Regions from separate parts of the Homo sapiens genome. Here region 1 is linked to region 2. The links come from fine-mapping of genetic effects on gene expression. A gene starts in region 2. The other region holds a variant in brackets. All regions are shown on one strand. Distances are between the middles of the regions.

Region 1 (5,377 bases), 30 kb before region 2:
TAAATTAATGTCAAATTCATTACCTCGTGAATGTAAATCTTCAAAATTCACAATCTCTCTCCACCTCTACCCTATTCCTCACACACACACACCCCCGAGCCATATTTTAAGTACACTGGTTCATTCCCACATGACTTCTGGGAACATTTCCAACAATTGTCTTTATTCAATCTTTTGGCCTTCCATAGGTAAAGCATCTATACATGCACAAAGCTGAAATAACTTAGCAATCAACCCTCACTAATTTACACTAACTAAAGAGAAGCCTTGTCCAGTGAAATAAAAAATCTGAATTGCAAAATACCTTAAGATATATGTACCTTGATTATTTTCAGGGTCACTTTTGAGATGCAGGGACCTTACCAAATCATTGGCATTTACTATCTAACATAGTAGTTAATATCGGAATATCTATTAACTGCTAATAAAAATCCTTTAAGTTTATGAATTTTAGCTTTTTTTTTTTTTTTTTTTTTTTTTTTTTTTTTTTTTTTTAAGACAGAGATCTCACTCTGTTGTCCAGGCTGGAGTGCAATGGCATGATCTCGGCTCATTGCAACCTCTGTCTCCTGGGTTCAAGAAATTCTCATGCCTCAGCCTCCTGAGTAGCTGGGATTACAGGTGCCCACCACCACACCTGGCTATTTTTTTTTATTTTTAGTAGAGATAGGGTTTCACCGTGTTGGCCAGGCTGGTCTCGAACTCCTGACCTCAAGTGATCCACCAGCCTCGGCCTCCCAAAGTGCTGAGATTACAGAGCTACTGCTCCTGGCCTAATTTTAGCTTTTTTAACATGGCCCCCTGTAACTTGATTGTTGTTATTTGCTTTATGTCATAGGTTGTACAAAATGTGCAAAGGATCAGATCACCTCCACCTGCCTCCCCAACACAGGCTTGGAGCAGAAGAAAGTCACCATCAACAGAATTTCACGTTGAGATGCCGCAATTTTTGGCAGAAACCCACCTGTGCATGATGTGGCATCGGTGGTCGGGTGGAAAGGTTCAGGTCCATTCCTTGGCAAGTATCCATCCATACAGTAGCATTCAAAGCTCCCATGAGTGTTCACGCATCGCCCTCCATGCCTGCACAGGCCAGAAACTTCACACTCATCTATGTCTTGGGACCCAATCCAAATAGAGAAAAGGAGATAAAAACAGAAAAAAGAAAAAAAAAAGGAGAGGATATTGTGACAGCCATTTTTTCACATTTTCAAGCTACTCTTGTAAAAAGATGCATTTGTTTGCAATTGTATCATACATTTTATTTTATGCCTTATGGGTTCTTCTCATATATCGTTCATATCATAGGCACTGAAAACATAGCAAGTGCTCAATAAATGTTTGTCAGTGTGTTCTGGGATTTTACAAAAGCTGATAACCATCACCGGCTCCCTGACACCCAACAAAATGAACCAAAAACATAAATATATCCAATCACTAAAAAATATCCTGACCGGGCATGGTGGCTCACACCTGTAATCCCAGCACTTTGGGAAGCCGAAGCATGTGGATCACTTGAGGTCAGGAGTTCGAGACCAGCCTGGCCAACATAGTGAAACCTCATCTCTAGTAAAAATACAAAAATTAGCCAGCCATGGTGGTACATGCCTGTAGTCCCAGCTATTCAGGAGGCTGAGGCAGGAGAATCACTTGAACCTAGGAGGCGGAGCTTGCAGTGAGCCGAGATCACGCCACTGCACTCAGCCTGGGTGACAGAGCAAGACCCCGTCTCAAAGAAAAAAAAAAAGAAAATCCAATCACTAAAAAATCCAATCACTATAAATATATCCAATCACTAAAAGAATCCAGTCACTATAAATATATCCAGTCACTAAAATATATCCAGTCACTATAAATATATCCAATCACTATAAATATATCCAATCACTATAAATATATCCAATCACTATAAATATACCCAATCATTATAACAAAAGAATGGTCCCAACCTCATACTAAAACATCTAAAGTAGGGCTTCAGATAGAAAACAATTTACAGGCCTGGCACGGTGGCTCATGTCTGTAATCCTGGCACTTTGGGAGGACTGCTTGAGTCCAGGAGTTTGAGACCAGCCTGGGAACGAAGTGAGAACCTGTCTTAAAATTAACTTAAAATATAAACAACATTTTTAATGTTTTAAATAAGGAAAACAATCTCCAGGAGAGTGAAAATGCCAGCCCATGAGTATAGGATGGTGTGGCAGGTAATAAGGTGGTAACTTAATTAGGAAAGGTCTTACTAATTTTATGAAAATGAGACAGCCTTAAAACAGCCTTCTGGAAGGACAGGACATGCCCTTTTGCAGATTTTTTTGCACCTGACTGAAGACTATCAGAGGCAGCAGGTATAGGGTAAAAACTGCCCAATAAGCCAGAGGCTGGAGAAGAAATCTCTCTTCCAGTTAGTAGTTTTTTCCCTCAGAACTGACTTTAAAACTTTAAGAATTCCATCAGCTGGGCATGCCTGGGCATGCCTATGGTCCCAGTTGCTCAAGAGGCTGAGGCAGGAGGATTGCTTTAAGTCCGGGAGTTCAAGGCCGGCCTGGGCAACACAGCAAGACCCTCATCTCTAAAAATAATAATAATACTATTTTCATCAGAGCCACATAGTTCAATTCCACTTGGAGAAAACAAAAAAGCACCCTAACTGAAATTCCTAGGACATTGGCATAAAAACATCAGGGATTGAGCAGAAGACAGGAAGCAGCATGATTGAAGAAAGTCTGTTTTTTAAAAAAAAAATTTCAAAAAGCTAGTAATACCATAATTTCCTTTTTTTTTTTTTTTTTTTGAGACAGAGTCTCACTCTGTTGCCCAGGCTGGAGTGCAATGGTGTGATCTTGGCTTATTGCAACCGCTGCCTCCTGACTTCAACTGATTCTCCTGCCTCAGCCTCCTGAGTAGCTGGGACTACAGGTGTGTACCACCACGCCGGCTAATTTTTGTGTGTCTTTTTGTAGAGACAGGGTTTCACCATGTTGGCCAGGCTGGTCTCGAACTCCCGACCTCAAATTGTCCACCCAGTTGGCTCCCAAAGTGCTGGGATTACAGGCATGAGCCAATGCACCTGGCTATAATTTCTTTTTCTTAAATGACATTTTAG[C/T]CCCCAAAAGATAAAAGAAAATTGCCTCAGAATCCTTTTGAACTTTTATATTCTTTATTCTTTTTCCTTTTGGGTCTTGGATCAATGAACGCCTCTCCACTCACACCAATTATTGTTTGGGAACCAGTAATTCTATTCAATTGCTGAAGGAGCCCATCCAAGTCAAACCACCCTCACACAAGAAGTGCCACAGAGCTTCTTCTCCTGGGTTGTGGCTCATGGTGGTTTCCATGATTCCCAGGAGTCATTCAGGGGGCAGTTCTAAGGGCCAGAACATCTGCCTGTTCTCCATGACTGGCTGGAATCATCTCACACTAGAACCCCAGCAATTCATTCCTCCTCTAACATTGGTGACATTCAGAGGCCTACCTGCAACCAGCTCCTGAGCTTGATGTTGACTCTGCAAAGCACAATAAACACCTGGATGCAGGATTCCTTGGAATCCAGGAACTAGGATTCACATCCTGTGGTTCCAGGCAAACAGTGACTAACTGCTGATACCCCAACACTTGCTAAGCTCTGCCCCAGCTAAAGCCCGCTGATGTTTCTCTGGCAACTGTGATTCTGAAAGAAACAGTATTATCAAGAAAAGCAATTCATCAGCTTTTACAAAGTGATAACTGGAGAACTCACAAGGAAAGGTCATGGGAATGGCTGCCAGTGGACATGGTCTTCATGGTGGGGGCATGAAAATGCTCCAAAATGAGACAGTGGTGATGCTAGCACAACTTTGTGAATATACTAAAAACCACTGAGTTGTATACATCAAAAGGGTGAATTTGATGGTATGTAAACTATAGCTCAATTTTTTACAAAAGAGAAGGTCATTCAATCATTGCAAGAATGGAATAAATAAAAGTAGAGCCTAGATCTGGATTTAGTTCCAGGCAGATTAGGTCTAGTTCGGCTGACACCTATTTGGCCCTTACATAAAATATTTTTTTCTCTTTCCTCTTCCCCTCTTCTTCCCTCCTCCTGTTCCCACCAATCTTCTCACTCTTCCTCCTCCTCATTCTTCTTCCTAACTTAAAAAAAAAAAAAATTAAGACAAAGTCTCGCTCTGTCACCCAGGCTGGAGTGCAATGGCACAACCTTGGCTCACTGCAGCCTCAAAGTCCTGGGCTCCAGCGATCCTCCCACCTCAGCCTTCCAAGTAGCTAGGACAACAGGCACAAGCCACCACATCCAGCTAATTTTCTTATTTTTTGTAAAGATGAAGTCTCATTATGTTGCCCAAGCTGGTCTTGAACTCCTGGTCTGAAGTGATCCTCCAGCCTTGGCCTCCCAAAGTCCTGGGGATACAGGCGTGAGTCACCATGCCCAGCCTTCTTCATAACTTTCAAAAGCTGAATTCATCTCTTGGAACTATAAACATACTGATAAATATACAGTTGTAAGTTTTCCCTGGCAAACTCCCACAGCCTAGAAAACACAATTTCAGGGATCATATTCTCCAGAAGATTCCCCTGATTCCTTCCTCACAGCCAAGATAAGTGACCCCTAGATTCCAGTAAATGCTGTTTGCTTACCTATGACTAACACTTTATACTGAAATTAGCTGTCTGCTCGTCACCCTTCCACTAGCACAGTCTTGTCATATAAGAAGTGCATGAAAGGCCAGGCGTGGTGGCTCACGTCTGTAATCCCAGCACTTTGGGAGGCCGAGGCAGGTGAATCAGCCGAGGTCAGGACTTCGAGACAAGCCTGGCCAACATGGTGAAACCCTGTCTCTACTAAAATACAAAAATTAGCTGGGCATGGTGGCGGGTGCCTGTAATCCCAGCTACTCAGGAGGCTGAGACAGGAGAAGCACAGGGGAATCGCTTGAACGCAGGAGGCAGAGGTTGCAGTGAGCCGTGATTGTGCCACTGCACTCCAGCCTGGGTCACAGTGGCTCACGCCTGTAATCCTAGCACTTTGGGAGGCCAAGGCAGGCAGATCACAATGTCAAGAGATCAAGACCATCCTGGCCAACATGGTGAAACCCCGTCTCTCCTAAAAGTACAAAAATTAGCCAGTCGTGGCAGTGCGCACCTGTAGTCCCAGCTACTCAGGAGGCTGAAGCAGGAGAATCGCTTGAACCCGTGAGGCAGAGCCTGCAGTGAGCCGAGATCATGCCACTGCACTCCAGCCTGGGCAACAGAGCGAGACTCCGTCTCAAAAAGAAAAGAAAAGAAAAAGTACATGAGAAATGTGTATTGAATAAACAAAACACTAGATCATCATCTTATATGCTTTTTTTTTAGTGTCTTTTCTTCTTAATATACAAAATTT
Region 2 (5,377 bases):
TTTCATCTCTCCAAATCCATAACAGCACCTCAAATTCAGGATGTCCAAAACAACTAATCATCTTTCTTTCCAAATCTTTCTCCTTCCGTAGAAACATATACCAAGTCACCCAGCCCCCAAGCCTTAGTGTCATCTTTCCCCTTCTGTTCCCTTGCACCTTCATATCTGTTATTAAATCCTTCCTTCCAGTCCATTTCCACCTTACTGTCTACATTCAGTCCGTTTCTGCTGTCATTACTGTGGGCCCAGTCCTCAGAACTTCCAGGCCAGCTATTGCAACAACTTCCTCAATGGGCTTGTCCAAGCCTCCAGTCTTTCCCTACATTGTCGACTGTCAGGAAACCTGCCCTTCATAAAACCAGGTTCTCCAAGGTTGAACATGAAGGGAGAATGTCTAGATAAGGAGAGGGGGCTCAACCAGGAAGCCTTGACTTCTGTTTCCCCAAATTCACCCCCAAAACCTTTAGTTACAGATGACCTTACGTAGCTACTAGCTGTGTTCAGCCATCTTAGTCTAACAATTCAATGGGATCATACTGGACAGTTTCCTACCTTAGAGATATCACAGGAAGATCCTGAAATAGACGCCAAGCATCTGCAAGTCCTATGCGCACTGTTCTCGGAGATAGAGCCAAGGAAGGAATCTTAACCAGGGCACCTAATATTACAAAAATGGCCACTCCAGAAGATCAAGCCATTGAAATACCCATCAGGCATGGTAAAAGTCCCAAGCCAAAGAGAATGGGGGTGGGGGCGGCAGGCAGGATTCTCAACCACAAGTCTCCTTGTATGTCATCACATGGAAATTTCCTTCCACTTCAGGATCAGCGTTTGGTTTTAGTAAGGAAGATGGGGGTTCCTTAGACCCTCTTTCCCCCGCCTCAAGTTTACTTATACAAATAGCAAAGGAGGACATCAGCCCCATGCAGATGGCAGTCCAAGGGGGACAATCCTTCTGTCCTCACGTTGGCAGACACAGATCTCTACTCTGAAGGCTTTGTAGGGGCCTGAGCTCCTTCGGGAGTCTGAGCTGGAACTGAAGCTGGAGCTGCAGCCTGAGCCTTGGTTTGATCCTTGACCTTGGTCTTTGGCTGGCACAGCCTGAGCCCCTTGGCAATGCGGGCACGAGCACGTTTCCCAAGCTTGAGGTGGGCAACGTAGGCAAGAGCTGACACCCTTTGGAATCTTGGGCTTAACCTCCTTGGGGTTTATGAGGGCAAGGCCTCAGCACGTGCACTCATGGCCTTGGCACTGTCGCCCTGCATCTTCTTTAGGCCCCTCTTATTGTGCTTCTTGGCAAACCGCATGTTTGTCAGGAACTTGGGGTCCACCCCTTTAAAAGATTCGTATCTTTGTGATCCGGGTTTCATGATGCCGTTTCTGTGCCATTTTCGGGACTGGTTGTGTGTGGTGTGGTGCTTGGATTTGGCCATGTCTGCACTGTAACCTGTGGCTCCCGAAGCGCCTAGAACTGGCTAGACCCACTTTTCTTGTCACTCCCTGAGACGGCTTCCAGTGGCTTCCAGGCACAGCTAAGTCCAAAGGCCTAGGTCTGCCAATCAAGGCACTCTGCCCTCTGCCTCTGGTGCCTCCGTGTGCTTCCTTCCCTTCTCCCCCGGGCCTGAATTCTGAAGGAATTCATTCATTCTACACTCATTTGTGGAGAGGTGACAGTGCCTTCTGCTATGAGCTGGGATACCTTTTTCACATTTTCCCATATCCAAATATGACCAATCATTGATGGCCCAGCTCAAGGGTCACCACCGATTCCCCTTTCCCTGCCCTCACCACCCACACCTTCTCATGGCACCCATGCCATTCTGCCTTGTATTACAGTTATGTGGATGAATGTCACCTCCCCTGCGTGTCTGAATCCTCTGTGTAATTCCTACTCAGCTCAACACTGCATTTTGCAGAGGAGGAAAAACAACTCCCTCGATTGCTTGGAAATAGAACATTTGCTGGTCTAAATCCTCCAGACAATGAGCTCCACGAGGGCCCGCACTGCCCGCCCTCATCGCGCACAGGGAAGCTGTTCAAGGGCCATCTGTTGAATGAATGAGTGAATTAATGGCTTCACTCCTGTACTCTTCCTTACGCGTCTTTCTCACCATATTTAGCATCCGGCTCTCTAACAACGTGAAAAAATTAAAAGTGGTAAGAAAATTGCTTCGGGTCAAAAATGTGTCATGCAAAAGCCACCGCAGAGCCGGAAGCGTGACAGCGCCGCAGAACGCCCTGGCCTCCCCGCCCTTCCCCGGGCGCCGCCCTGCCCGGGTCCGCGCTCGCGCCCAGCCCCCACCCCGCCTCCTGGGCAGTGGAGGTCCCTGGGGGCCCGGCCAGGCCGCCTTAAAACCGGCGTCCCCCGGCGTCGCGGGGTCGGGCGGGGGCAGGGAAGCCCGGCGGGGAGCCCCCCGCTTCTCTGAGCTCCTCCTTGCCGATCTCCAACGGCCGGCGCGGGCCCCACCTGCGCCCCACGCCTCGGCACCGCGCCGGCCCGGCCCAGGGGCGGGGAAGCGTCCGTGCGCCCAGAGTCCTCGAGGCCCAGCCGGGGGCCCCGCCGGCCGCCCGTGCCCGTCCCAGCCCGCACTCACCGTCGGGGCCCGGCGCTCCCGCGGCGCCGCGGGCCAGGCCGAGCAGCAGCAACAGCGGCAGCAGGCGGCGAGACGGGCCCGCATCCCAGGGCCCCCGGCCCATGCCGCCGCCGGTCCCTCCCGGCGCGCCCGCGCCTCCTCCCGGGGCCCTCAGGGTGCAGAGATAAGGCTACAGGCGCCGCGGGGAGGGGACCAGCCGGCGGCTTCCGGCGCCGCCGAGGGAAGCGGGGGGCGCTGCGGGGTCCCCGGGAGGCCGCAGAGCGCGGGTCCTTCCTCTTGTCGGGGCCTGGGCTTAGGACACGCCCGTTCCGCGTCCGTCTCTGGCTCCGCACTTGCTGCCCTCTCGCCGCTCACATTCGCAAAGGGGGACAGACACTCATCGGATAATGACACAGCTGGACGCAGAGCCCCGGAGAGTGCTGGGGAGGAAATGTTGCGGAGGATTCAAGCCACTCGAGGGCTCAGGGAGGCACCCCCGGGGAGAGGGGTGAGGGGAGCAAGGGGCGGAAATCTTCCAGGACGTGAAAGGGAGCTGGATGAGGTGACCACAGCGCAAGGCCCAGATGAGAGGTCGGAAGACGCAGACCCAGGCCACCCAGGGGCGACACACTTGACCAGGTGACACCTGGTCACCGGGAGTGAGAGAGAGTAGGGCTGTGATGGAGGGAGGGGCTGGCATCAGTCCCCGCTGCTCTGAGGACACCCGGCTTGGGACGCGCTGATGCCAGCCCCTACCTCCATCACAGCCGTACTCATCCCAAGGGAAGGAGTAAACCAAGACCCAAGGATGAGAAGGACGTTGGGGAGGAATCTAAGCGGGAGTTTGTTGTAGAAATGGGGAATGGGGACCTAGAGTGAGAGCAGAGGGTTGGAGAGGGGCGTTGAGCTGCAGAGGGAAGTTAGCCCTCCTAACCCAAGTGATGGAGGTCGCCGGGAAGCTGTCACAGTTTCAAGCAGTGAATGACTTCATCACTGACACATCTCTGTCTGTTCTGTGGAATTGGGATTGGGGTTGGGTTGGGATGTGGAAGGCAAAGAGTCCAGCCCGGAGTTGCTGCAGGAATCAGGCAATAGAAGACATGTCCTGGCCCGGTGCGGTGGCTCACGCCTGTAATCCCAACACTTTGGGAGGTCGAGGCGGGTGGATCACTTGAGGTCAGGAGCTCGATACCAGCCTGGCCAACTTGGTGAAACCCCGTCTCTACTGAAAAAAAAAAAATTAGGTGGGCACGGTGGCAGGCACCTGTAATCCCAGCTACTCGGAAAGCTGAGGCGAGAGAATTGCTTGAACCCAGGAGGCGGAGGTTGAAGTGAGCCGAGCTCGCACCACTGCACTCCGGACTGGGCGACAGAGTGAGACTCCATAGACAGATAGATAGATAGATAGATAGATAGATAGATAGATAGATAGATAGATAGATAGACAGACAGACAGACAGACAGACAGATAGAGATAGAGATAGATGTGTCCTGCAGCTGGGCATTGACAAATGAGTGTGAAGAGGGCAGTGTGTAAGAGTGGAATCCACTAGGTTTTATGACTAGTCGGGGAGAAGGAAATAAATAAGATCCGGTTTGAAGGCTTTGAGCTTGTGATGTCTGTGGGAGCGCAGCCGAGAGCAGGCACCCCACTACTTCACCCCATATCCTCACTTGTTTACTCTCTGCCATGAGCCTGCCGTAAATCTCACCACTTTCAAACACACCCATATAAGGGCTAAAGTTGTGGAGTCTTAACAAGTAGTTAAAAATCAACTTCAAGCTGGGTGAAGTGTGGCATGCCTGTAGTCCCAGCTACTAAAGAGGCTGAAGGGCAGGAGAATTGCTTGAGTCCAGGAATTCAAGGCCCATGTGGGCAATACAGTGAGACCCCCTCTCTTAAAAAAACAAACAAACAAAAACAAACAAAGAAAAAGCTCATCTTCCTAGGCTCTTTTTTCCTCTTGGGGAGACAAGGTCTTGTTCTGTTGCCCAAGCTGGAGTGCACAGCTCACCACAGCCTCAACCTCTTGGGCTCAGGTAGTCCACTAGCCTCAACCTCCCAGTAGCTGGGACTACAGGGGCGCAGCATCATGCCTGGCTCATTTAAAAAATTTTTTTTGTAGAGACAAGATCTGGCTATGTTGCCCAGGCTGGTCTCCAACTCCTTGGCTCAAGCAATCCTCCCACCTTGGTCTCCCAAAGTGCTGGGATTACAGGAGTGAGCCACTGCATCTGGCCTCACAAGCTCTTTTCTTAGCAGGCTTTCTTGAAAATTATTTTTGATCAACAAAGACAGGCACCTGTTTGGGGAGCAATAGATGGACGGTGTGTCTCTATTATTTAGACAAATTTTTTAAGTTCAGCTCTCCATAAACTTCAAACTTGGAAATCATGTCATTGTTTCAACAAATATACCATTCACTTAAGATTTTTAACCAGCCTATACCACTTCATCCCCACTGTGGCCCCTTGCAAAATAAATAAACTTAAGTATATATGTATATACATTTTTTATTGATAATGTCAGGAAAATTTGTCCAAAACTTGGAAATGGGCAAAAGAGATTACTGGGTATCCTTTCAGTGGGGTGCTGGGTGCACCGTCGCTGGACTTCCTATTGACTAGGCTATTTTGCAGCACTAGAGGGCTAGAAGTTAACTTGCCGAAAACTGATGATAATGTAAAAGATTTATGTCCATAGCAGTGAAAATGAATGTTTTCCAAGAGAAATATAAGTGATCAGTCCTTTCTGCCAGAAAATAAATAAGTTAAACCCACTAATTTCATTTTGTCCTATATGA

The links. PIP is the estimated chance that this variant, and not a neighbour inherited with it, causes the effect.
Region 1: its variant is the best candidate, but not a certain one, in a credible set for the expression of SUSD1 in whole blood (INTERVAL, PIP 0.79).

Annotation. Positions count from the first base shown.
Region 1 is chr9:112,142,507-112,147,883 of GRCh38, forward strand. SUSD1 (sushi domain containing 1) reads right to left here. Exons shown (of 17, transcript NM_022486.5): 4 at 965-1,117. Among named protein-coding and RNA genes, the nearest start is that of SUSD1, 30 kb to the right of the region's middle. RefSeq lists an enhancer at 1,822-3,021. The variant C/T (reference allele first, on the strand shown) is at 3,104.
Region 2 is chr9:112,172,539-112,177,915 of GRCh38, forward strand. SUSD1 (sushi domain containing 1) reads right to left here and starts at 2,759. Exons shown (of 17, transcript NM_022486.5): 1 at 2,595-2,759. The coding sequence starts at 2,697. It also overlaps the pseudogene RPL29P20. RefSeq lists a silencer at 2,218-2,877.